4 linked regions of the Homo sapiens genome follow. The protein of the gene in region 1 purifies or fractionates together with the protein of each later gene. This does not show direct contact. Each region holds a gene or a part of one and is shown in the gene's direction. Other genes may lie near its edges.

Region 1 (7,028 bases):
TGTTGAGAATGGTAATGAATTAACTCCATTTTAAATGTAGAATGCGTATCACTCCAATATGAATGCCCTAATGAATCCTAAGATTTGTAGGTTTTGTGTACTAGTATGAAAATTACTAAAGATGGAAAAATCACATGTTGGAGACATAAGATACAAACCTTTTTGTTTTCTGAAAATACAACCTCTGATTTCTGATTCCTTGTTGTAATATGGTGTAATTATACTAGATTGTAATTTTGTTGTTAGATTATACTTTTTTAAGTTCAGTGTTTGAGGACAGACTTTCATTTGGTTAGTAGTATTATGGCAGCTAGCAGCTAAATATGATAAAGTGTACAATCAAAAGGATATTTTTAATGAAGATATTAGTGGTCTAACATGTCATTTCAGATACATAGCTGAAATGTAGTAAAATCAGTTTTACTACAAATAAACTTGCATAAGGTTTATAAATTTATAAGTTTATAAATCAACTTGGGTAAAGTGTAAATAAACTTGCACTCGTGGTTTCTCTGAAGTCTCCTGAGCTAACTTTGCATAAAGGTGTTATTCTGTACTTCGAGGAAGTGAATTATTGGGGTCAACCACATTTTTTTTCCTTCCTACAGTCTGATTGCCCTTTTTAGTTTTTAGGATCTTTGTGGCTGCATCATTTTTCCCCTTTTGAACTGTGCATTTTCTAACCCCATACTTAAATATTCTCATAACCTCCAAATTATTAATTAGATGCAACATTCAGTGGTATATTACTGGAGTTTCTGATTTCTGCCCACTATAGGAATGTGCTTCCTGAGAAGATTGGGATCGTGATTATAATAATAGTTAACAGGGGATGAGTACTTTCTAGGTGCCAGGCACTGTTCTCTCTGATACTTTATTTGATGTATTGTTGTTATTCCCATTCTTTAAATGATGCACAGAGAGGTTAGGTAAGTGACTTACTACCAAGTGTCAGGGCCATTAAGGGTCAGGATTCTGAATTCCTGAAATGATGAAATTTAGCTTGAAGAAATTGGTTTGATTTCCTGCTTAGTTTTCAATTTCATGGTGGTCTTTGATTGTATTTTGTGCTATAACACTGCCTTAGCATCCTATAACTATAGTTACAGTGTTATATTACCATTTTTTATTGTTAATACAAAGCCATCATGAAATAATTCAGTTTATGTGCCAGCTTTTTTTGTTACTAATTCTTGAACCTTGGCGCTGTACTTCTTCATGTGGATGCCTGTTAAGGAAAGATAAAGTTAGAAATCTTTGACCCTGCTAGGAAATTTGTCTTTGTTATATTGGGAGCTCATAAAACTGAAGTATTCAAAAGTTAGAATACATACACACAAGAAAAATTAGTAACTAATTTAATAATGTTTTCTTTGCACATGTCTCTGTTGTCTTTTGGTCAGAGTGAAGCTAAATGTGTTTTTCACATAATTTGTAGCCTATATGAAGTCCTGGACATGTGGTATGGTTGGAAGGACTGTTGATGAGGTTTATTGTCTCTCTTTATTCTTTTATGTTGTTAGTGTCCCCATACAACGGGGCGGGGGGAGTGGGGACAAAATGATAACTTGCTTTATATATGAAGCCTTGGGTTTGAATCATACTGTTATCACATTTCCTATGTCCCTATCCTGTCTCCTGCAGGTTTTCTTTCTTGGTTTTCTTTTTTGGTTTTCTTTCTTCCTTTCTTCCTTTCTTTTCCTTTCTTTCCTTTCTTCCTTTTTTCTTTCCTTTTCTTTTTTCCTTTCTTTCCTTCATTTCTCTCCTTTGCTCCTTTAGTTTGTTTCTTTGTTTCTTTGGTTTGTTTCTTTGTTTCTTTGGTTTGTTTCTTTGTTTCTTTAGTTTGTTTCTTTGTTTCTTTGTTTCTTTCAACAGGTCTCACTGTCGCCCAGGTTGGAGTGCAGTGGTGGGATCTCAGCTCACTGCAACCTCCACCTCTCGGGTTCAAGCCAGTCTCATGCTTCAGCCTTCCGGGTAGCTGAGATTACAGGCATGTGCCACCATTCCTGGCTATTTTTTGCATTTTTAGTAGAGATGAGGTTTCGCCATGTTGGCCAGGCTGATCTCAAGTTATCTGCCTGCCTCAGCCCTCCAAAGTGCTGGAATTACAGGCATGAGACACCGGGTCCAGCTTCCAGCAGGTTTTCTTTAGGAGGGATATTTTACAATGCTGTAAGTTTTTCCTAACGAGAATTATCATAGCACTACATGTTCTGTCTTCAGTAAGTGATACAAGCTTACTGATGATGTTGTAGTTATGTTCATTGGTGGTCGGGTGTACATTGAAACTTTAACACATAATAGCCTCTCCTGTGAGCAGTGGTTCCTGTTGGTAAGATACTTTACTAAGGGAAGGAATGTGAGGTGTCGCTGGGGAGAGTTTACCCAAATAAGGATGGACTTTCTGTCTTTGTTTCATCAGTCCTGGTAATAGAATGTTTGAATAGATAGCTCTAGGCATTACATACTTTCATAAATATGATTATTGTAATTACCTCTTTGGCCCAGTTGCTAGTAAATTAGGGACCCCTTAATGATTTATTTCCTGTTTATTCACCCTGATGAAGAACTTGTATCTCTTTTAAACTGTACTTTATCGCCTTTCTCAAATTCCAAGATTCTCATCACATTTTTTTTCTTCCCAAACTCTAAATAACCTTTTAATATTAAGTATCTTTGTGGAAACATTGTTTTCTTTTTCTATCCCAATTTTTAAAGCTTTTTTAAAAAAAAGAGTGCTTTTGTTGGGATGTACATTTTCCAAATGCAAAAACATTTATGATTCTGTGTCTCTTATAAAATATGACACTCTCTACTTTTCTCTCATTTATTTAGTGCCACCTATGTGTGTAATTTCATTACCCACAGCAGTCTTAGGAGGCTGGTCGAGTTCCTTATTTGCAGATGAGGAATCTGAGGTCCAGAGATCACTTCTTGGTGAGAGTCTCACAGCTATTAAGTATTAGAGCCAAGATTTTGAACGTAGGTCTGATTCACAGCAAAACCGTTAACCACTAAGTACACTGACTCCAGTAAGAGCCCTAGTCCTCACCCAATACACTTTAATTCCCCTGTGCATTCATTCAAATTCATTGAATTTGCTGCCTTTGGAAACCTCTCAGGAACCTCCTCAACCTCTCTTCTCTACAGACATCAGCTTTGCCTGATAGGTAGGGATCATAGCAAAACACAGTTTTCCAAGGTGGTGATAGGTGGAGTGATAGTGCTCTGGAGATGGCCAAAGAAGGAAGGTATGAGTGTATCTGTGGGTGGGTGAGTGGTGGATAAGGGGAAGGACAGAGCCAAAAGCGACGGCTATTGGAAAAACTATGATGAGAAACAGGAAGATGGAACCTTGTTGGAATTAGTGAAAGACCTTAGAATTCACAGGAGGTATTTGTCCTTCACGCGAGTGTAGACCAAACGTAACCTATGAGTTTCTTTTATTCCACTTATTAAAGCAGCAACCAAAGGTATTATATACCTTCTGTATTCACTTAAAATGACTGATTTTGAAAAAGTCATGCAAACATCCATTTACAGATAAGCCTCATTAACTCAAAGGCAGTGGCCCTGTTGGGCTCTGATGATTACTCAAACCATTTCTGACACTCTGACACTACATCCGGAAATCATCCGGAAATGCATTCAGAGCCTGCAAAAGCTTTTTTTTTTTTTTTTTTTTTTTTTGAATAGCTACAGCACTTGCAGATCTTCCTCCTTTGAGAGAATATTTGATTTTAGGAAATAAGCAAATGTAGATAAGTATGATTCAACTGGGCAATAACTTTTAGGCAAAGAGAAAAAAACAAAATATAGCAATGTAGTAATAAGGCTGATATTATAGTGCTTTTATGATGAGTCTGAAAACAGTCTCCAACATTTGTAAATGTTTTAAATCGGGTCTGTCTACTACAGTAGCCCTTAAGCCATATGTAGCTATTGAGCACTTGACATGTTGCAAGAGTGAATTGGAGACTGATTTTAATTTTATTTAATTTTAATGTAAGTAGTCGCACATGACCCGTGGCTACTATGGTAGATGGCATAGTTTTAGACAAGGGCAGTAGTCTTGGGTAGATACTTGATTTACTTAGAACATTTCTTTACCTAGCTGTAACAAGGTTCTAATAGCTGATTAAAGGACAACATTTTTAGCATGTAATATACAGTAAGGAACTAATGTTAATTACTGCCAAGATGTATAAACATTATGAAACCTTAAACAAGGATGAACACAGAAGCAGTGGCCCTTCTTTGTAAATAAGGGGTCAGTTACTTCCTAATAGGTGTCTTAGTTTTAGTTAATAATCTAATAGCACCCCCAAAAAGCAAACTGTTAATTTGTTATTAGCCATCCTGTAAAGACAAGGGAGAAATCGGGGCCAGGAGAGTCCTCTTTCCCATTCTCCATAATTTTTACGACCTATAGAAATAAGAGCCTAAGAGTGACCAGTTCCTGCAACCTAACTCAAAATTAGGCCTCTCTGTTGAAGTAATAGTGAGGCAAACAATCCCTTGAAGCACTGGGGCATGCACCCTTATGAAATCTAATAATTCTAAAATATCATTGGCAGTATTAAGCTAGAGTTCTCAAAATATGCTGTAGAAAATATTGGTCATTTAAATATAGCTGAGTAAAAATAAGCAAGATCAAAATGATAAGAAAATGTTGATTTCTCCCCTTTTGAACCAGTAACTAACTATAAGGGTATATACCCATGCTTAACTTAAAAATAATTATTTAGCCACCTTGGGTATAGCACAACATATGGATGCCATTATAGTCCACCTTGATCTTACAAGGAAGCTTTCTTTTAGCGTAGCTTTACTTTTATTTAAGCATTATTGAAGAAGCTTGGTATCTCTGTTTAAGTTGCTTCTGTATCAGTGTTTTCCAGGGCCCTGTCTCAGCTTCCATAGTTTTTCTTAAGAGCAGCTAATTAATGCTTCACTCCATATGCTTTAATTTGATATTTTGGGAAGTTTCATTTTTTAAAATAATCTTTTTATATCATAGGCCTTTGAAGACATATTTGTTTACAAAGACATCTGCATTGAACCATTTGTTTTTAAAAACATGTATCGGGCATGTTCTATATACCAGAAACTATGCCATTTACTGAGGACACCGAAGTTAGAGAATGGTCTTAATCCGAACTAGTTATTGTCTCACTATCCAATATGGATATCAAACATTCAGCGTCATGAGGATTTACTACTGTGTTTTCTCCCAAGAGTTTTATAATTTTAGCTCTTATATTTAGGTCTTTGATGCATATTCATTGATTTTTTTTTGTATGCAGTATGAGGTAAAGGTTGAAACGTATTCTTTTTGCATGTGGGTGTCCACTTGTCCCAGCTTCATTTTTTGAAAACACTATACTTTCCCCATTGAATTGTCTTGGCTTCTTTGTTGACAAAGGATTTATTATTTCTGCCACAACCCAGCTGTTTCTCACTGTCTAAACCTTTATGCCTGCTGCCCCGTAGGCTTAGTGGAATGCCTCTCCATCCTCCACTCTCTTTTGTTTAGCTAGTACTTCCTTATCCTTTAAGGGGTCAGTAGGAACCTCACCTTCTTCAGTATGTTTTCCTTTGTCTTATCAACCTACCACCATCACCCACACACATACCTTTTCCCTAAGGCTGGGATAGGAACCTCTTAGGCAATGATCTATTTGATAAGTACTCACTGAGTTCATACTAGACACTCTGCAGTATATCCGTAAATGAAGTAAAACCTGACACCACCCTCAGAAAACTTACTGTTAGTGAGAAAATGGGCTATAATAATAGAGTGGGGTAAGTTTATTGTAGGGATAAGCATAGGATGCTATGAGAATGCAGAGGACAGGAATTTAACCTAGACTTCTCAGTTCTCCCGTTGAAGTTGACATCTGAACTGAAATCTGGAAGACCAGTAAGAGATAGCTATGTAAAAAGAGGGGAAGGACAATAGGAAAGAAGGAATGGAGAGAGGCCCAGAAACTACAGAGTATGGCACAAGTAGTTTAGCATTGTTGGGTCACAAATTCTAAGGATATGAAAGATAAAGTTGAAGAAGTGGTGGGGCTGGGGAGGACAGCTCCTGTAGAGCCTTTTACAGCGGGAGAAGGAGTTTGGCTATGGTCCTGCAGGCAGGGAGAAACCACTGAAGGGGAGAAACATACAGAATAAATTTGAGTAAGAAGCTTAAATCTCCCCAAGCCCTTTTAAAATAAATTAAGATATAAAGCCTTTGGGTTTCTTTATGCTTTGTCCTATTCTTCTAATTGTCCAAAACAAAACAAAAACCTTCCTTTTCTGTACCTATTAAAAGGTTAATTTTATAAAGTTACAGACAGCATGCTGATTAAAGAATTCTTGATAATTAGCTATTTTGTCTGTCTTTGTGTAGATTACTAACAATTGTGTCATCAGATTTAAAAGATCTAAACCTCTGGACTTTATATATTTTTTCTACAAGTACTGTGAGATTGAGAACTTAATTCAACTCTAGTAACTGGACTTTTTAGTGTTGTTTGCAGCATATGATTGTTAAAGAAAGTTTAGTATATTTGTGTGTGCGTATATATATATATATAGATAGATAGATAGATTTGAGGTTATATTTAATCATTGACTATTGGTATTCTAAGATTTTAAGGAGAGAAAGGTAGGTTACAATATATGGCTGATATATGGTTCTGGAACAATTTTCTTAGTTTTCAGTAATTCTACCTAAAATGTACGTCCAGCTTTGCACTCACTACCACATTGTAATTTCCAGTATACTTGTCTATTTTTCGAGATGTTGAAATCTGTGGAGAATTTTTTCTCATGTTTAGTGTTTTAGCTATGTTTATCTCTAGGGTATAGCACATACAAGGTGGCAATATAGATGTGCTTAATGAATAAAATGATCTTCAAAAACTGACCTTCATTTGAAGTTCTATTTTATTCATAAACACATAAAACGTTTGGTATCACTGTAAAATTTAACTAAAAACAAAAACTATCTTTAAGCTCACAAGTTAATTTAACGT
Region 2 (7,028 bases), on another chromosome or scaffold:
TCTCCTGACCTCGTGATCCACCTGCCTTGGCCTCCCAAAGTGCTGGGATTACACGCGTGAGCCACTGTGTCCAGCCTACAGGTAAGCATTTTTTTACTCAGTTACATACATGAGTTGTAGCTTATTGGTTTATTATGTGGTTTATTTTGTGAGGAAACATTGTTAAACATTTTTTATTTATGTTTTTGAGATGGGGTCTCGTTCGGTCACCCAGGCTGGAGTGCATTGGTGCAGTCATGGTTCACTGAAGCCTTGAACTCATGGGCTCAGGTGATCCTCCTGCTTCAGCCTCCTGAGTAGCTGGGATGACTAAAGGTGTGCACCACCATGCCCAGCTACTATTTTTATTTATTTATTTATTTATTTATTTTTATTTATTTATTTTTTTGAGACGGAGTATCATTCTGTCACCCAGGCTGGAGTCTAGTGGCGCGATCTCAGCTCAGATGCAAGCTCCGCCTCTGGGTTCATGCCATTCTCCTGCCTCAGCCTCCCGAGTAGCTGGGACTACAGGTGCCTACCACCACCCCCGGCTAATTTTTTGTATTTTTAGTAGAGATGGGGTTTCACCGTTGTTAGCCAGAATGGTCTCGATCTCCTGACCTCGTGATCCACCCACCTTGGCCTCCCAAAGTGCTGGGATTACAGGCATGAGCCACCACTCCCTGGGCCAATATTTTTATTTTTTGTAGAGACACGATCTCACTGTGTTGCCCAGGCTGGTCTCAAAATCCCAGGCTCAAGCAATCCTCCTGCATTGGCTTCTCAAAGCCCTGGGATTACAGGTATGAACCACCATGCCTGGCCCAGTAATGTCTTTTATCTATGTAATTTTCTTATTACGTGTTTTAGAAGGTAAAAGGTTTTTTTCTTTTTACAAAATGTGTAAGGGAAAAACAATAGGATTTGATTACCCAGTAAACTAAGTAGTTTTGTGATGGGAATGTAAATCTGTTAATAAAAGAGATAGGTGAAAATTTTATACTGGTTTCGTGTGTTTTACTACCTAATATACCTGAGAATTTTGATTTCAAGTTAAAGTAATTTTTTTTTGAGACGGAATTTCACTCTTGTTGCCCAGGCTGGAGTGCACTGGCACAATCTTGGCTCACAACAACCTCTGCCTCCTGGGTTCAAGTGATTCTCCTGCCTCAGCCTCCTGAATAGCTGGGATTACAGGCATGTACCACCATGCCCAGCTAATTTTTGTATTTTTAGTTGAGGTGGGGTTTCACCACATTGGCCAGGCCGGTCTGGAACTCCTGCCATCAAATGATCCACCCGCCTTGGCCTCCCAAAGTGCTGGGATTACAGGCATGAGCCACCACTCCCAGCCAAATTAAAGTAATTTTTAACAGTGTTTATTGAATTTAAGTGTTTCAATTTTTTTTTTTTTTTTTTTTGCTTAGAGCTTAGATATACTAATTTTTCATGGTACTATTTTTCACAGAAAACTTGGTGGAAATTATGATAAATATTTATAATGGCTATGTGACCATATTGAGCAATTAAGGAGAAGTATTTAAACAAAACAAGTGATGGTTGATATATTTATGTATGACAAACTGTTTTACTCTTTATTTCCCCATCATGTTCCCTTTTTAAATTTTAAGAGGAATATAAGAGTTTTTTTCTTCATTTCATCTCCTGTTTTGGAATAACACTGTATTTCACTAAGTTTCTTCAGAGGGAGAACCTTTAGATCAAAGGTTAAATTTGGAGAGCACTGTTCGTGATATTTGTTAAGTACTTAATAAATATGCACTGAATGAGTATGCATGACACTGGTTGAATGCCAACACCTGGGTATAATTCTGGAAACCAGAACTCAGTTCATGCTTTATGTAGTCTCCTTCCTTTTTAATCTTCCATAGGTTGAGTACCCTTTATCCAAAATGATTGGGACCAGAAATCCAGTTCAGCCAGTTTCAGATTTTTTCAGATTTTAGGATATTTGCATTATATGTTAGATTTACATCATCCCTAATCTAAAAATCTAGACTCTGAAGTGCTCCCGTGAGTATTTCAAGTGTCATGTCAGCACTCAAAACATTTCAGTTTTTGGAGCATTTTGGATTTTGAATTTTTGAATTAGGGATACTCAACTTTTTGTGTGACAGGGTCTTGCTCTGTTGTCCAGGCTGCAGCACAGTGGTGAGATCACAGCTCACTGCAGCCTCGATCTGGGCTCAAGTCATCCCCCAGCCTTAGCCTCCTGAGTAGCTGGGTCTGTAGACATGCATCACCACACTTGGCTAATTATTTGATTTTTTTGTAGAGACAAGATCTTATGTTGCCCAGGCTAGTCTCAAACTCTTGAGCTCAGGCACTCCTCTCACCTAGGCCTCCCAAAGTGCTAGGATTACAGGTGCGAGTTACAACACCTGGCCAACCTTTACTCCTTATTACACTAACTTTATCGTTAGTGTTCTACTCTACCCACAACTCTGGGGAAACTGAGGCTGGGGTAGCTTGCTGGTGCACTAGTAATTCCAAACTTGAACGGGAGAAATGCTTATTGGAAGCACTGTCTTTATATAGTTTGCAAGTTGTCATTACTTTTTATTTTTAGAGACATGTCTTGTTCTGTTGCCCAGGCTGGAATGCAGTGGCATGCCACCATGCAGTGGCATGGTGATAGCTCACTGCAGTCTCAAATTGCTGGGCTCAAGTAATCCTCCTCCCTGTAATCCCAAAGTGCTGGGATTATAGGCATGCACCAGCACATCCAGCTAATTTTTTGTTGGTCCTTCTTTTAAAAGCAGGCATTTCTCAGAATTACTAAGGCATTAAGGAATTTTAAGAAAATCTGATTCCAGAATACTTTGTTACTGTAAATATTGACACTGCTCCTTAACATTTTTTTTCTGCCATTTTAACGAAAACCGTATACTACTTCTGCTTGCTCAAATGCAAAACAGGACTCTGCCTCTTAGACTGTGTTGCCCTGGAAGCCTGAGATGGGGCATTCTATGACTACCAATATTACTTTCACTATCAACCACATGAAGTGATCATATGTTTCAGTACCAGATGGTGTACTGATACTTTATATATATTCTCATCTGATCCTTACAGGGCTCATTTGAGGGAGATAACTATTATTTCCCCATTTTATATAAGAGAAAATTGAAGTTTAGAGATGTGAAGCTTCTTTCCTAATAAGTAGTTTCCAGGTACTAATTGGCCAATTAAGTTTTAAATCCAAGCAACCTGACTTGTCAGTGTAAACAGTTTCTAGTTAATCACTGTGATGCTGAATAAGTATAGTGGGTAGCACATCTGATTCAACTGAGATCTACCTTCTTAAGAAAAAACAAATCTAGGAAGCTTACAGTGGCTAAGATGGGTCATTTAAATGTAGGTGATTTATAACTGCACGTAAGTCTATTTCGTGTTGCTTTGTTATCTTACCTCTCGATAAGAATGGCAAATAACTACTCTTACTCATTGTGCATGATTTTCTGGTTTTATGTGACTGTGTTCAAATTGAGGAAACCAGAATCCAGTTATTCAACAACAATAATTTTCTCTATACTATGATTTATTTACATTTTTTCATATAGTTCTCTCAATTATATATAAAGTCTAGGAAAGTATGACTTATGTGTGAATTTCCTTACCTATTCTTTAAGGCTGTTTTGTTTTTTAAGAGCCTATTTATTGTTGTACTGCTGGTTCCTAAATAGAACAGTTAAGTAGGCCACTGAGCAGGAAAAAATACTGCAAAATTTTATAGTCTTCTGAGTTTATTACTACCAGAAGACCTTATCTCAGCCCAGATGTGTGTATCTGAAAATAAAAATTACACTATGGGCATCTGATTAATATACTTACGTCTTACATAAAAGTAAAATGTGTCTGTCCTGGCCCTATCAGCCTGTTTTTTTTTTCCTTCTCATTCTAGGTAGAAGATGTGTTACAACGTTGTCGAGAATATTTAATTAAAAAAATAAATGCAGAGAATTGTGTACGATTGTTGAGTTTTGCTGATCTCTTCAGTTGTGAGGAATTAAAACAGAGTGCTAAAAGAATGGTGGAGCACAAGTTCACTGCTGTGTATCATCAGGACGCGTTCATGCAGCTGTCACATGACCTACTGATAGATATTCTCAGTAGTGACAATTTAAATGTAGAAAAGGAAGAAACCGTTCGAGAAGCTGCTATGCTGTGGCTAGAGTATAACACAGAATCACGATCCCAGTATTTGTCTTCTGTTCTTAGCCAAATCAGAATTGATGCACTTTCAGAAGTAACACAGAGAGCTTGGTTTCAAGGTCTGCCACCCAATGATAAGTCAGTGGTGGTTCAAGGTCTGTATAAGTCCATGCCCAAGTTTTTCAAACCAAGACTTGGGATGACTAAAGAGGAAATGATGATTTTCATTGAAGCATCTTCAGAAAATCCTTGTAGTCTTTACTCTTCTGTCTGTTACAGCCCCCAAGCAGAAAAAGTTTACAAGTTATGTAGCCCACCAGCTGATTTGCATAAGGTTGGGACCGTTGTAACTCCTGATAATGATATCTACATAGCAGGGGGTCAAGTTCCTCTGAAAAACACAAAAACAAATCACAGTAAAACAAGCAAACTTCAGACTGCCTTCAGAACTGTGAATTGCTTTTATTGGTTTGATGCACAGCAAAATACCTGGTTTCCAAAGACCCCAATGCTTTTTGTCCGCATAAAGCCATCTTTGGTTTGCTGTGAAGGCTATATCTATGCAATTGGAGGAGATAGCGTAGGTGGAGAACTTAATCGGAGGACCGTAGAAAGATACGACACTGAGAAAGATGAGTGGACGATGGTAAGCCCTTTACCTTGTGCTTGGCAATGGAGTGCAGCAGTTGTGGTTCATGACTGCATTTATGTGATGACACTGAACCTCATGTACTGTTATTTTCCAAGGTCTGACTCATGGGTAGAAATGGCCATGAGACAGACTAGTAGGTCCTTTGCTTCAGCTGCAGCTTTTGGTGATAAAATTTTCTATATTGGAGGGTTGCATATTGCTACCAATTCCGGCATAAGACTCCCCTCTGGCACTGTAGATGGGTCTTCAGTAACTGTGGAAATTTATGATGTGAATAAAAATGAGTGGAAAATGGCAGCCAACATCCCTGCTAAGAGGTACTCTGACCCCTGTGTTAGAGCTGTTGTGATCTCAAATTCTCTATGTGTGTTTATGCGAGAAACCCACTTAAATGAGCGAGCTAAATACGTCACCTACCAATATGACCTGGAACTTGACCGGTGGTCTCTGCGGCAGCATATATCTGAACGTGTACTGTGGGACTTGGGGAGAGATTTTCGATGCACTGTGGGGAAACTCTATCCATCCTGCCTTGAAGAGTCTCCATGGAAACCACCAACTTATCTTTTTTCAACGGATGGGACAGAAGAGTTTGAACTGGATGGAGAAATGGTTGCACTACCACCTGTATAGTGGGGAAGTTCAGGGAGTGCACGCCTGAGTTATGTGCTTTGTCATTTTCTTTGCTAAACAAAAGAGGCTATGAAAGAACTAAATATGAGTACATAAAATTCTATCTTTGATAAATTTTATTTTTATGCCCTACTTAATATTTGCATCAGTATAATATATATCAGTGAGTCTTACAGAAAGATATGCTTCCATAATATGAAATAGATTATTCAATAATTGAGAAACTTTATGTGTAATCATGAGAGTATAAGAATCTGGATTATCTAACATTGTTAGCCCTGTGTATGTACAGTTCAAAAAGTTCATTTATAAAAGTAGTTTCCTGTTCCTAGTGTGATGTATCACAAATTGTGCTGAGGTTATTTTAGTATGTGTGTTTCATTCCCGTGCTTCTGTTCTGAAGTCCTGGAATACAGTTTTCAGTGTAATTAATTCAACTGCACTTAACACTAATGTCCGTGTTGGTATAGAAATGTCTAAATCCTATACTCTAGTTGAGGAAGATCTTCCATAATTTTATGGTATTACACAGGGAAAGCTATGACTGCAGGATCAGTCTAACTATACTATTAGGTGCATGTATTCTCTTTTCACTAACTTATACTTGTCTATCTAGAATACAGGTCTTCCAGTCAGCTGGTCATTTACCAGGTGTGGACTTAAGTTGCTAGGCTTGCAGTAAGAATTGCCAGCCACTCATTGTGCGGGTCTGCGTGGAGCTTTAATCAGAAAAAGCCTCCACTTTCTGTATTATGTTAACATTGGCTCATGCATATAACTATCTGCTGCTGATGTAGTTCTCCATCTTCAAGATTTAGAGTGGGTTAACCAGGTCATTACATCTTAATTTAATAACAAGCATTACTGTAGAGTGATTGTGTATAGATCTGTTAGCTGTCAGGGTGTGTTTTTTTTAACCTGTTGTGTGCGTGTGGGGGTTAGGATTAGTAAGGTGAACTGTTCAGGAATTCTCTGCACTAGCTGTGCAGAAGAGCAGATAACTAGCGCTGCTCTGGCATTAATCCCAGGAACCACTAGCAGTAGTGGGGCGCCGCCAATCTAACATGAGCACAGGTGCTTCATGACAAACATTACTAGCATGTTCAACTGCACCATGTTCTGGCACTGTATTTTGAATGACATTAATTTATTAAATAAATTGTATATATTCAATATCTATTTTTCTTTTGTTATGGGAATGGTCTGCTTTTTAAATTTTGATTTTGCTAGGTCAAACTTAGCTAGTAATAGGTGGTTTCTTCCAAATTTTGTTTGATGAAGATTGAGAGATATGCATAGGCTTTCCTTAGGCTAGTGTCTTTCTACCCTGCTGGCATGTTAGAATCATCTGATTCTGATCATCATCTTTAGAAGCTTGAGATGATGCCTGAACCTCACCCCAAACAAAATGGTTTCTTTTTAGAGCACATCATTGATCATGTTTATAGACTTGAACTGCCCCTCCACTGCCTACTGAATGAAGTCCAGATTCCTTACCACATTTAAGGCTCTCTCTAATTTGGCTTTAAATTACCTTTACAGCCCTACCTTGCATTGTTTTTCCATAAGCCTTATCTTCTGATTA
Region 3 (7,028 bases), on another chromosome or scaffold:
CCCCTGTGCCCGGCCTCTTTTTAAAATTTTAATGCAGTAAGCAAGCCTGCTGATCTGGCTGCTACTTGAGTTTTTGATTCTTTAGAATTTCTTGGAAATGTTTTTTTCTAGGACAGTAATTGAACATAAAATATTAATGATTGTGAACATTAATAATGTGTTAATACTAATTATGAACATTAATGATTAGTGATATAAAGTGTAGAGACATTAATGACTGAAAGATAACTCCTCAGAGAAGTTAATATAAAGGTAGGTGCTGATTGGCAGCCAATTTAGTTGTGAGGTGGCTGTTAGAATCTAGTGTTCAAGTACTTCTGAAAAAAAAATATAAATCTAGTTTATAAGCCCCTCCTGAGGACTTGAACCATGACTGGTCATTAAATGTGTATAGGTGTATGTGAATTACTATACTCTGTCATACCCTACCCTCAAGTGATTTTGTTATTTTATTTTTATTTTTTGAGATGAATCTCTGTTGCCCAGGCTGGAGTGCCCAGGCTGGAGTGCGGTAGGATGATCTTGGCTTCCTGCAACCTCCACCTCCCGGGTTCAAGTGATCCTCCCGCTTCAGCCTCCTAAGTAGCTGTGATTACAAGTGTGCGCCACCACCCCAGGCAATTTTTTTTTCTTTGAGAAGTCTCGCTCTTGTCCGCCAGGCTGGAGTGCGACGATGTGATCTCGGTTCACTGCAACCTCCGCCTCCTGGGTTCAAGCGATTCTCCTGCCTCGGCCCCCCGCCCAGAGTAGCTGGGGTTACAGGCACCTGCCACCACGCCCAACTAATTTTTGTATTTTTAGTAGAGACAGGTTTTACCTTGTTGGTCAGGTTGGTCTAGAACTCCTGACCTCAGGTGATCCAGCCGCCTCGGCCTCCCAGAGTGCTGGGATTACAGGTGTGAGCCACCATGCCGGGCCTCCCCTAAAGTCATAAAGGAGAAAATAATGTAATTATTACATAGGTTATTAACTAGGCTAATACATACTGAAAGATTGCCGTGTTAATAATGGAGATTCAACAAACTGCACAAAGTAACTTTTTTTTCTGTCTTCTCAGTGTTTTAAGTGGTAGATAGCAGCAAAAAGGTCAAGTTACAGTTAAGTCTTGAGACTTTGATAAGCCACAGACTGAACTCTACCTACATGTTAAGTAGTTAAGTTGGCAGTATTGATGTTGACTTAATTGCTATTAAAACTATATCTTTTGCCCTTTGAAAAACCCAGGGCATTTGGATTTGCCCTAAATTTAAGCACATCTGGTTTTTAGTTTAAATCCTTTTTATATTTAGATGATTTACTTGTGAGAAGACTTAACTGTTTTTAAGTATAAGTGAGCATTTCTAATGCACTAAAATAGGATTGCTTTACAAATCAGTTTTGAATTCCTCTTTAGAAACCCTTGTGGAGTAAAGTGAGGTACTATTTACAATTAGATTTGTTTTGACTTCAGTCCATTTAGCAACTTACATTTGAGCTTTATTTCAATCTTGACCTATTCTTATCGGAGCCTTCTGGACCAAAATGCTTTTTTTATGGATTTTAAAATCAAATATCCTGGCAAAAATGACTATGGATATGTAGTATTGCTTAAATTAAAACAGAGAATTGAAATAATTTTATTGTACTTTAAAAAACAAAGTTGTTTATTTCCTAATAATTTGAGCCATTAAAGAAAAAGCTAAGCATCTGCTCATTGAGAATGCATGCTCTTAATGTTGATGAAATATGATCGTGTTATGTAATGCAACTAAAAGGCTTGGTGGGTTTTTAAATTCAGGCTTATAAAGAGTACATGAATGTTTAGCAAAGAGAAGAAATACAGCTGTGATAATCAAGTGTAAAATCCATTTGCAAATCTTACAGGTAATATTGAATTGAATGATTAACTGCCTAGTTTTCTTTATCAGTTCATTGGTGCTGAACTGGGCCCTAGGCTATGCAAGATATTTCAAAACCAAGTCTTAATTTTAACTGAAGAGAGACCTCATTTGATATTATTAGATGTAATCAGTTGTGATATAGAATAAAGGATGTTTTAATAGATGACATTTAAAATTGTTATATTCTTTGTGAATATAATAGGTTTAGACTCTAGTGACTTTGGTAGGTGAAAGATTAACTAATGATCACTTGCGTAAAATGCAAAAATAGCCTGACAGCTTTTTAACCACTAAGTGACCAAAACTGATAGCCAGAAGTGTAGTGTTTTTAATACTTTTTCCTGAAGGCTTTCTGCACTTCATCTTTGCAGTTAGTAGTATTCTTTAAAAAGAATGCTGTTGTTGTGAGGGTAACATTTCTTTCTAGAACGTTGCAGTGTGTCTGTGCTTAGAATTTTCATTGCAGCTGTTGTGCAGAACTTATGTGTTCAGTGTTTTAAAATAAAAACATTCTTAACTATTTTATAAGTAAAATCTTTCCTTGAGGCTATTACCTGAAGCCTTCTTTGACATTTAAGATCTCTTGATGTGTTTGCTTTTCCATGGGTTGCAAGAACTATTCTTCTGCAATGCAGAGGGCAAGATTATTTTGCATTCACCTTGTCATAGAAAAAAGCTGTAATGCTTAATTTGTTTCCCTTTGCTTGACTGTGTGTGTTTGTATGTGTAGCACTGGGAAGTATTTAAAGCTGTGAATTCCCCCAAGTGATAATGGGTACCTTTTTCTAGGGTGAGAGTCGAAGCCTAAGTATTACATTGAGAATGTATTGTTTTAACGTGGCCAAATTAGTGTACTCTAGGATACTACCCATGTGGCAGATATTTGAGAATGCATTTTGTGTGACTTACAGATTAAGCATACAATTTGCCAAAATTTTATGTAATTAATTTCCTAGTTTACATTTAGGGCTAGATGAAGACTAGTACTGTTTCATCTTTTAGAAAAACTAACACTTTTCCTTTAGTAAAAGTGTTAATTTTTGCAATACTTTTGCAAAAGGTTAAACTTATAGCAATTTTGTCATAGCTATAATCTTACACTGTTATAAAATTTAGAGGATTTTTAATTTTTATTTATTATCATTATTTGAGACAGTTTTGCTCTCGTTGCCCAGGCTGGAGTGTAATGGCATGACCTCGGCTCACTACAACCTCCCCCTCCCAGGTTCAAGCTATTCTCCTGCCTTAGCCTCCTGAGTAGCTGGGATTACAGGCGCCCGCCACCACGCCCGGCTAATTTTTTATATTTTTAGTAGAGATGGGATTTCACCATGTTGGCCAGGCTGGTCTCAAAACGCCTGACCTGAAGTGATCCACCCACTTCAGCCTCCAAAGTGTTGGGATTATAGGCATGAGCCACCATGTCCGGCCTAAGAGTTTTTTTTTAGAGCTTAAACCACCTTAGAATTTAGTCCAGTTCATTTTATAGAAGACAAAATTGAGATGTTTATATGGAATGACTTAGGTTGGAATGGGTGATTTCCAAAATTCTCGCAGTTTTTTTTGAAACAGAATCTTGCTCTGTCGCCCAGGACTGGAGTGCAGTGGTGCAATCTCAGCTCACTGCAACCTCTGCCTCCTGGGTTCAAGTGATTCTCATGCCTCAGCCTCCCGAGTAGCTGGGATTACAGGTGCATGCCACCACGCCCAGCTAATTTTTGTATTTTTAGTAGAGACGGGGTTTTGCCATGTTGACCAGGCTGGTCTCAAACTCCTGACCTCAAGTGATCTGCACGCCTTGGCCTCCCAAAGTGCTGGGATTACAGGCGTGAGCCACCACACCCGGCCTCTTAAATAATGTTTTATGGGAGTAATTAGAATTTGTAATGTTCCACGGCCTAAGTGTAGTTTTCATGTTTAATTATGTAGAATCAAGTAAAGCCTTTTGCTTCAAATCCTTAGAGTTTTTCTGTTTTAAAAAACTGAATGCAAAAGAAAAATGCTTTCCATTTCCTTATTATTAGACTTTTATTAATGTCTCATTGTTGAACTTTGTGTTTGCATTGTCCGGGTAATGGGGTTCTGAGAATATCGGTAAGGTAAAATCCCAGTGTGTCAGGTATCATTGGGACATCCATATTGTAATGAAATAAACTTTTATAAAGTTAAAACTCTGAAGTTTTTCTTTATGTTTAGCTTCCTATGTACATTTGTCAGACTCTACTCCAGCTTGGTATGTTGTAGACCGGAAAAATCTGGAAAAAGCATTACCAGTAGAGAGAAATAAGAAGTGTGACAACCTTTTCATCCAAATTACTGTATTCCAAGCTTCTGGGTATTTTTTGGTAGTTGGTTCCTTTTTCTGGGGGAAATGAATGGTGTGTGTGTATACAGTATAGAAGAGTGAGAGGAGTAGCAGAAGAGAAATTCATCCAAAGTTGGAACTGTAAATTGCTTTGTTTTAGCTCATTTATTTCTTTCTTTCACTAGCTCTACTACAGTGCTTTTGTTAGATAGACTATGAGTACAAAAACGTGGGTGAAAGATAATTTACTGAGTAGAGTTCAAAATTCAAACTTCCTGAGGAAAGGGGAGGGTGTGCTTCTTGACCATGCTCAGCTAAAGTAGTTTGTTTCCTTTAACTTCCCCTGTTACCTATTGTCTGTACACTTCTTGACATTGTTTTTTTTTTTTTTTTGAGACGGAGTCTTGCTGTGTCGCCCAGGCTGGAGTGCAATGGTGTGGTCTTGGCTCACTGCAACCTCCGCCTCCTGGGTTCAAGTGATTCTCTTGCCTCAGCCTCCTGAGTAGCTGGGACTACAGGTGCATGCCACCACACCTGGCTAATTTTTTGTATTTTTAGTAGAGACGGGGTTTCGCCATGTTGGCCATGCTGGTCTTGAACTCCTGACCTTGTGATCTGCCTGCCTCGGCGTCCAAAACTTCTTGACATTTTTATATTGCCTTGTGTTGTTAACCTTACATGTTTTTCTAAATTGGTAATAAGCTCTTTGTGGGCAGAGACTATTAACATTACTTTGCTGCGCTTTCTCACACATGGTATATGCTGAATAAGTACTTGGTAGTTTGGCCAAATCATTACATAGAAATATCTGTAGCTTCATTAACAACCCTGTTAAAATGGATTAATCCATGGGGTTAGGGAGGAAATGCTTTTTGCACAGAACTATTTACTTGCAGTGTTTTTTTATTGAAATTGATTTTTTTCCTGAAGGGTTTTTTACTTTTTACAGGTGTGTAGAGTTGATGAGTAGGCAAGTAGAAGAATACTTTTTTTTTTTTTTTTTTTTTAAGCTGGGTAGCAGGCTGGGCATGGTGGCTCACGCCTGTAATCTCAGCACTTTGGGAGGCTGAGGCAGGTGGATCACCTGAGGTCAGGAGTTCGAGACCAGCCTGGCCAACCTGTGAAACCCCGCCTCTATTAAAAATATGAAAAATTAGCTGGGCATGGTGGCATGCAGCTGTAGTTCCAGCTACTTGGGAGGCCGAGACAGGAGAATTGCTTGAACCTGGGAGGCAGACGTTGCAGTGAGCCGAGATCGCGCCACTGTTCTTTAGCCTGGGCAACAGAGTGATACTCCATCTCAAAAAAAAAAAAAAAAAAAAAAAGCTGGGTAGCATTAGCAAGATATGTGAATGGTCTTAAGAGAACACAGATAATTCTTATTATTAGAACCATTGTACATTATTGGAAATTTCATTGCATTCTCCTCAATACTGTTCTAAAAATATTTTAATTTTAATTTTTTAGAGACAGGGTCTCACTATCACCCAGGCTGGAGTTCAGCAGGGCAATCATAGCTCATTCCAACCTTGAACTCTTAGCCTTAAGCGATCCTCTTGTCTCAGCCTCCCAAAGTGTTGGGATTACAGGGTTGACCCACTGTGCCTGGCCCCCCTCAATACTGTTATCTAAACATAGAAATAACTGAAATATATTTTAGTCATTAAAAAACCCTTTGGGCTTACACTTTGAGTTACATTGAACTTCTTTTTACATTGTGGACAGGAAAGATAGTAAGCAAAAGTTTCCTCAATTTTTAAAAGGACGACGGTAGAAAGAACACATTGCAATCTATAGATGATCCATGGCAGCTATCTTCAAATGCTGAAAGCTTGCTCATGTAGCAGGAGTCTGTGCTGTTTTAGAAAACGAAAAAGTATTAAAACAGTGATGGTGGGGATGTAATTTTTTTACATTTAACTCCCAAGGAATGTATTAATATAAATAAGTTGTACAGAATTATGCTAAGGAATAGCTTGGTTAAAGCAACTAATATTTTGAAAGATGCCCTTTAAGATTATTTATGGTAATTTGCTTTTCAAATCTAGAAGCTTTAGACTTTTTAAGAATATAGTTCAAAGTAGGTGATGCTGGAACTTGTTAACATTTCTTTTTCCTACTAGAGTCAGCTGCTTCAATTCACTCAGACTTACCTGCATAATTATAACCTTGGACAAGGAATAAAGGTTTTTACAGGATTGGCTTTTATCTTTTTTAAAAAATTGGACAAACGGCTTGTGAAACTAAACTCCTGGATACTTAACCTGCTTGAAAAATTATCTTACAATGGAACCTTAGGTAACATCCTTTTTTTTTTTTTTTTTTTTTTTGAGATGGAGTTTTGCTTTTGTTGCCCAGGCTGGAGTACAATGGCGCAATCTCAGCTCACTGCAACCTCTGCCTCCCAGGTTCAAGTGATTCTCCTGCCTAAGCCTCCCAAGTAGCTGGTATTATAGGCAACCACCACCGCACCCGGCTAATTTTCTGTATTTTTAGTAGAGACCAGGTTTCATCATGTTGCCCAGGCTGGTCTCAAACTCCTGACCTCAGGAGATTCGTCCACTTTGGCCTCCCAAAGTGTTGAGATTACAGGCATGAGCCACTGCACCTGGCCTAGGTTAGCATTCTTATGCCATTCTTAGCGTTCAGAAATCCAGCATTCCTGACAGGTGTTCATTCAGCCTCTGCTTTAACCAGTCTTCCAGGGCCTGGTAGAGTGCTCGTTTCTCAATGAAAATTTGTTTCATTGGTGTGCCACTCTTTAAGTTCTTGGTGGTAGAAGTATATCCTTACCGGCCGGGCACAATGGCTCATGCCTGTAATCCTAACACTTTTGGGAGGCT
Region 4 (7,028 bases), on another chromosome or scaffold:
GAAAACTGTGTAGTGTTTCTGAAGATCATTCCAATTTAGGACTGAAGCATAAATCTGGTTTCCTTCTATTTAATTTAGCATGCTACGCTTACTCTTTGGACATATTCTCTGTATTCATTAGGGCATTTTGTAACCTGGTTCTGTACTCAATTGTATGCTGTAATTTAGTATTAGATGTTGAAATTGGTAGGTTCTTTTTTGAGATAGGAACTTGCTCTGTTATTCAGGCTGGAGTGCGTTGGTATGATCTTGGCTCACTGCAGCGTTCACCTCCCAGGCTCAAGTGATCGGCTTACCTCAGCTTCCTGAGTGGCTGAGACTACATGCGTTCACCACCACACCCCGCTAATCTTTGTGGGGTTTTTTGTTTTGTTTTTGTTTTTGTTTTTGTTTTTGAGACAGAGTCTTGCTCTGTCTCCCAGGCTGGAGTGCAGTGGCGCGATCTCAGCTCACTGCAAGCTCTGCCTCCCGGGTTCACACCATTCTTCTGCCTCAGCCTCCTGAGTAGCTGGGACTACAGGCACCCGCCACCACGCCCAGCTAAATTTTTGTATTTTTAGTAGAGACGGGGTTTCACCGTGTTAGCCAGGATGGTCTCGATCTCCTGACCTTGTGATAATCTTTGTATTTTTTATAGAGATGGGGTTTTGCCGTGTTGCCCAGGCTGGTCTTGAACTCTTGGGCTCAAGCAGTCTGACTGCCTTACCTCCCAAAGTGCTGGGATTATAGACGTGAGCCATCGTGTGCAGCCACTTGGGATGTCTTTATTGTAGAGTAGGTGTGAAGAAATTTAGGTGTATCTACAATGCTTATATAATATAGCTAGATGTAATTTTTCCATTAGTGAGATGTTTCTTTTTAACAGTATTTTAGGGAACATTTTTAAGGCCAAGATAAGGAGAAATACAATAATACAAAGTTAACTTTGAAATGGCGCACAATTGGTGATGACTGTAATAATTTATAGCCATACAGTTGGAACTTCCTGCCCTTTTATGGGCTATATTTTTTTGGTAATGTTTTATAATGTTTTATAATTATTTGTAATTAACTGGGACAGATAAGCTTACTCAAGTGTACTCTTTCATTCTAGGTGGAAATTACTGGTCTTGATGGATTAGAAATTCACATCAGCATGGTCTTAACTTTGTTTTTCCTTAAGGAATAAACTTCATTTATTTATTTCTATTTTTTATTTTTATTTTTTGAGAAGGGTCTCGCTCTGTCAGCCAGGCTGGAGTGCAGTGATGCAATCACAGCTCACTGCAGCCTTGACCTCCCAGGCTCAAGTGATCCTCTCACCTCAGCCTCCTGAGTAGTTGGACTACAGGCATGCAGTACCATACCCGGCTAATTTTTGTATTTTTTGTACAGACAGGGTTTTTTCATGTTGCCCTGGCTGGTCTCAAACTCCTGGGGCCCTAGTGATCCTCCTGCCTCCCAGAGTGCAAGGATTACAGGCATGAGCCACCGCTTCAGGCCCATTTTTTTTTTTTTAATGGAGTTTTGCTCTTGTTGCCCAGGCTGGAGTGCAATGGTGCCATCTCAGCTCACCGCAACCTCCGCCTCCCGGGTTCAAGCGATTCTCCTGCCTCAGCCTCCCTAGTAGCTGGGATTACAGGCATGTGCCACCACGCCCAGCTGATTCTGTATTTTTAGTAGAGACGGGGTTTCTCCATGTTGGTCAGGCTGGTCTCGAACTCCCGACCTCAGGTGATCCGCCCTCCTCGGCCTCCCAAAGTGAGGATTGGGATTACAGGCGTGAGCCACCGCACCCGGCCCTATTTATTTTTAATTGTGGCAGAAACCACTTAGAACATTAGATATATCCTCTTAACAAAAATTTAATCATATGGTACCATGTAGTTAACTGTAAGCAGTGTTATACAGCAAATCTCCAGAACTTTTTTTTATCTTGCATGACTGAAACTTTATACCTATTTCCTATTCTTACCTTTACCTATATTTCCTATATTTACCTTTACCTATATTTCCTATATTATACCTATACCTATATTTCCTATTTCCCCCTACTCCTAGCCCCTGGCAGCCACCATTATGGTTTCTGCTTTGATGAAGTTGATTATTTCATGTTCCTCATGTAAGATATTTGTCCTGACTGACTGACTTCACTTAAGCATAATGTCCTCAGGGTTTATCCATGTTGTAGCATATGACACTATTTCCTTCTTTTTTATCCCTGAATAATATTCTATTGTATGTGTATACCACATTTTCTTTATCCATTCAGCTATTGGATATTTAGGCTGTTTCCACCTCTTGGCTATTGTGAGTAATTCTCCTCTAAACTTTTTATATAGCGAGAGAAAGATTCTCATTATGGTTAAGAGTCATTGCTTTCTGTTTTAGAGGGATTATTTTGCTATATACTTACGCATGGGAAAGATTGCTTTGTTGATTATACCTTTGAATTCTTATCATCATAGGTCTGAAGCTGCGTTGGACCAGGAACAGATTACTGCTGCTTATTCTGTAGAACATAATCAATTAGAGGCTCACCCAAAGGCAGACTTTATCAGAGAATCAAGTGAGGCACAAGTACAAAAGTTTTTAAGCAGATCTGTGGAAGATGTTAGACCTCACCATACTGATGCAAATAATCAGTCTGCTTGTTTTGAAGCACCTGATCAAAAGACCTTATCCGCTCCTCAAGAGGAGCGGATTTCAGCTGTAGAAAGTCAGCCTTCCCGGAAAAGAAGTGTTTCCCATGGATCTAACCATACGCAAAAACCAGACGAGCAGAGAAGTGAACCATCTGCAGGCATTCCTAAAGTAACCAGCAGATGCATTGATTCAAAAGAACCAATAGAAAGGCCAGAGGAGAAACCAAAAAAGGAAGGCTTTATACGATCTTCTGAAGGACCAAAACCTGAAAAAGTATATAAATCTAAATCAGAAACTCGTTGGGGCCCACGACCAAGCTCTAACAGAAGGGAAGAAGTTAATGATAGACCTGTGAGAAGATCAGGTCCCATTAAAAAACCTGTACTTAGAGATATGAAAGAGGAACGGGAACAGAGGAAGGAGAAAGAAGGAGAAAAGGCCGAAAAGGTCACTGAAAAAGTAGTTGTAAAGCCTGAAAAGACGGAAAAGAAGGATCTTCCTCCTCCCCCACCACCACCTCAGCCACCAGCACCAATTCAGCCACAGTCAGTTCCACCACCAATTCAACCAGAAGCAGAGAAATTTCCTTCAACAGAAACTGCAACTTTGGCTCAAAAACCATCTCAGGATACTGAGAAGCCTCTGGAACCTGTGAGTACTGTTCAGGTAGAGCCTGCAGTTAAGACTGTAAACCAACAGACTATGGCAGCACCAGTAGTCAAAGAAGAAAAACAACCTGAGAAAGTCATCAGCAAAGACCTTGTTATAGAGAGGCCTCGACCAGATTCAAGACCAGCAGTTAAAAAAGAATCAACTTTGCCTCCCAGGACCTATTGGAAAGAAGCTAGAGAGAGAGATTGGTTTCCAGATCAAGGATACAGAGGTCGAGGCCGAGGTGAATATTACTCCAGAGGTCGAAGCTATAGAGGTTCTTATGGAGGGCGTGGCAGGGGTGGTAGGGGACACACTCGAGATTATCCTCAGTATAGAGACAATAAGCCAAGAGCAGAGCATATACCCTCAGGGCCTCTCAGACAGCGAGAAGAAAGTGAAACACGGAGTGAGAGCTCTGATTTTGAAGTTGTCCCCAAAAGAAGACGACAGCGGGGTTCAGAGACTGACACAGACAGTGAAATTCATGAAAGTGCAAGTGACAAGGACAGTTTAAGTAAAGGCAAACTTCCCAAAAGAGAGGAACGGCCTGAAAACAAAAAACCTGTAAAGCCTCATTCTTCTTTCAAGCCTGATAATCATGTTCGAATAGATAATAGACTGCTAGAAAAGCCTTATGTAAGGGATGACGATAAAGCTAAACCAGGCTTTCTTCCTAAAGGAGAGCCTACAAGGAGAGGCAGAGGGGGAACATTCAGGCGTGGTGGAAGGGATCCTGGAGGCCGTCCATCACGCCCTTCCACTTTACGAAGACCAGCTTATCGGGACAATCAGTGGAACCCAAGGCAGTCAGAAGTTCCTAAACCAGAAGATGGAGAGCCGCCAAGAAGACATGAGCAGTTTATTCCTATAGCAGCAGATAAACGACCTCCAAAATTTGAGCGAAAATTTGACCCAGCTAGAGAAAGGCCTCGAAGGCAGCGTCCTACTCGACCACCAAGGCAAGACAAGCCACCTCGATTTAGACGGCTAAGAGAGAGGGAGGCTGCTTCAAAATCAAATGAGGTGGTAGCAGTGCCCACAAATGGCACAGTTAATAATGTGGCTCAAGAACCAGTTAATACTCTTGGGGATATTTCCGGGAATAAGACACCAGATTTATCTAATCAGAACTCTTCAGATCAGGCAAATGAAGAATGGGAAACAGCTTCTGAAAGCAGTGATTTCAATGAGAGGCGAGAGAGGGATGAAAAAAAAAATGCTGACTTGAATGCACAAACAGTTGTAAAGGTTGGAGAGAATGTTCTACCTCCAAAGAGGGAAATTGCAAAGAGAAGTTTTTCTAGTCAGAGACCAGTAGATCGTCAGAATCGACGTGGCAACAATGGTCCACCCAAATCAGGAAGGAATTTCTCAGGTCCTAGAAATGAAAGGAGAAGTGGCCCACCATCAAAAAGTGGGAAGAGAGGGTGAGTACTTTGTTTTAAATATAGTTGCTTTTGCACCTTTAAAGAAGCTAAAAGTAGAGTTCTTGGTTGAATTATGCAAAGAGCCAGTCTAGATAAAGGACCAAAAAACATTGTTCTTCCCAAATGCTTTATTCTCTGTTCTCAAAGTGTAAGGGTGCTTAAGGAAGAGAGGTTAAGGTGTCTTAGGAGTCTTTGCCTGCTACGTTACATTTTCCAGAAGAGTTCTCTTGGAAACTTGTAGCTTTGGGAAAATGTTCACATCTAAGGAGGGACATGTACTGTGTCCTTATTTGGTAAGTTATCTGATGAGTAGCCCTCCCTTCTTTCTCAGTTTCTCCTAATAAACCTCTAATGCTACACAGGTGTCCTCTGAGATTTAAATTAATGTTATAACCATATACTTTGTCACTCTAGAGAGAGGCCCAGAAAACAAATCCCTGTTCTACTACCAAGGACACCAATAACATAATTGCCATGGCAATGGATTTTTTTAAAAAAATATTTTTTCTCAAGTAAGCTAAACTTGGCCTGTTTTTTGTTGTTGTTGTTGAGATGGAGTCTCGCCTTGTCACCCAGGCTGGAGTGCAGTGGCGTGATCTCGGCTCACTGCAAGCTCCACCTCCAGGGTTCATGCCATTCTCCTGCCTCAGCCTCCCAAGTAGCTGGGACTACAGGTGCCCACCACCATGCCTGGTTAATTTTTTGTATTTTTAGTAGAGACGGGGTTTCACTGTGTTAGCCAGGATGGTCTCGATATCCTGACCTCGTGATCCACCCGCCTCGGCCTCCCAAAGTGCTGAGATTACAGGTGTGAGCCACTGCACCTGTTGCTTGGCCTGTTTTTTTAACTATTCAGATGTTGGGCCTGGTGCGGTGGCTCCTGTAATCCCAGCACTTTGGGAGGCCAAGTTGGGCGGGTCACAAGGTCAGGATATCGAGACCATCCTGGCTAACACAGTGAAACCCCGTCCTCTACTAAAAATACAAAAAATTAGCCAGGTGTGGTGGCAGGCGCCACTGGGAGTGGAGCTTGCAATGAGCCGAGATTGTGCCACTGCATTCCAGCCTGGGCCACAGAGCGAGACTCCGTCTCAAAAAAAAAAAAAAAAAAGTTGGTTATAGTAAGCTAGTATTGATTTATTTATTTAGTGTTAGCATTATAACGTAGCAGTTAAGATTCAGAATGCCTAGGTTCAAATCTCGGCTCTAGTACTTTCTAGTTGCTTCCCCTTTGCTTCCTCACCGCTAAAATGGGGAGAAAATAATAGCACTTAATGTGTGAAGATACTAAGATGATACTTGTGATGCACTTAATACCTGGTATATAGTAAGTAATCATTATTATGTGTGCCCTGCTTTTAGAGCAATTGCCAGGTTTGCAGCCTGAGCTGATAAGAATTTAAGAATTTATTTGGACTGTATGGTATTAATCTGAGTTCCTTAGTTTTACATACTTAGCACTTCAGATTACTATACCCATAAGGTATATTTGTCTATTTTCTGTTGATATAACTAAATACCTGAGATCTGGTAATTTATAAAGAAAAGAAATGTATTTCTTGCAAATCTGTTGGCTGCAAAGTCGAAGGTTGAGGGGGCGACATCTCATGAGGGCCTTCTTGTTGGTAGAGACTCTGCAGAGTCCCAAGGCAGCATGCTTATCACATGGTGAGGGGGCTCACAAGAGATGGCACAACTGGCTTTTATAACAGACCCGTTCATGGTAACTAACCAACTCCCTTGATAACCCATTCATTAACCTGTTAAGGATCAATCAATCCATTCAGAAGGGCAGAGCCCTCATGACATAATCACCTTCCAAAGTTCTCACCTCTCACCACTGCTGCATTGCCATTAGGGACCAAGTTTCCAACACATGAACTTTTTTTTTTTTATTGAGGGCGTGGGTGAGGGACGGAGTCTCACTCTGTCACCCAGGCTGGAGTGCAGTGGCGCAATCTCTGCTCACTGCAACCTCCACCCCGCTGGGTTCAAGCATTTCTCCTGGCTCAGCCTCTCTAGTAGCTGGGATTACAGGCGTACACTACCATGCCCGGCTAATTTTTGTATTTTTAGAAGAGACAGGGATTCGCCATGTTTGCCAGGCTGGTCTCGAACTCCTGACCTCAGGTGATCTGCCCACCTCGGCCTCCCAAAGTGCTGGGATTACAGGTGTGAGCCACTGCACGTGGCCCAACACATGAACTTTTGAGGGATATGTTCAAATCACAGCATTAGTTTGCTGTTCCAGATAATTTAGAAAAAGGAAATTTTTACTTGGAATTTGAACATTCCCTTAAAATTCCAAGAGAATCAGGATAA

Evidence for each region.
Region 2: the proteins of FMR1 (region 1) and KBTBD2 purify together in Homo sapiens (affinity purification with mass spectrometry; 3 studies listed by BioGRID and IntAct, with this or other methods). This does not show direct contact.
Region 3: the proteins of FMR1 (region 1) and CAPRIN1 purify together in Homo sapiens (affinity purification with mass spectrometry; 2 studies listed by BioGRID and IntAct, with this or other methods). This does not show direct contact.
Region 4: the proteins of FMR1 (region 1) and PRRC2C purify together in Homo sapiens (affinity purification with mass spectrometry; 2 studies listed by BioGRID and IntAct, with this or other methods). This does not show direct contact.

The regions. Positions count from the first base shown.
Region 1 is NC_000023.11:147,914,891-147,921,918, forward strand, and holds part of FMR1 (fragile X messenger ribonucleoprotein 1), read left to right. Parts: intron 1-7,028.
Region 2 is NC_000007.14:32,867,760-32,874,787, reverse strand, and holds the end of KBTBD2 (kelch repeat and BTB domain-containing protein 2), read left to right. Parts: intron 1-3,907; coding exon 3,908-5,443; 3' UTR 5,444-6,616; downstream 6,617-7,028. UniProt on the Homo sapiens protein: Substrate-specific adapter of a BCR (BTB-CUL3-RBX1) E3 ubiquitin ligase complex that acts as a regulator of the insulin signaling pathway, modulating insulin sensitivity by limiting PIK3R1/p85alpha abundance in adipocytes.
Region 3 is NC_000011.10:34,054,709-34,061,736, forward strand, and holds part of CAPRIN1 (caprin-1), read left to right. Parts: intron 1-5,769; exon of another isoform or gene 5,770-6,483; intron 6,484-7,028. UniProt on the Homo sapiens protein: mRNA-binding protein that acts as a regulator of mRNAs transport, translation and/or stability, and which is involved in neurogenesis, synaptic plasticity in neurons and cell proliferation and migration in multiple cell types.
Region 4 is NC_000001.11:171,537,524-171,544,551, forward strand, and holds part of PRRC2C (protein PRRC2C), read left to right. Parts: intron 1-2,447; coding exon 2,448-4,706; intron 4,707-7,028. UniProt on the Homo sapiens protein: Required for efficient formation of stress granules.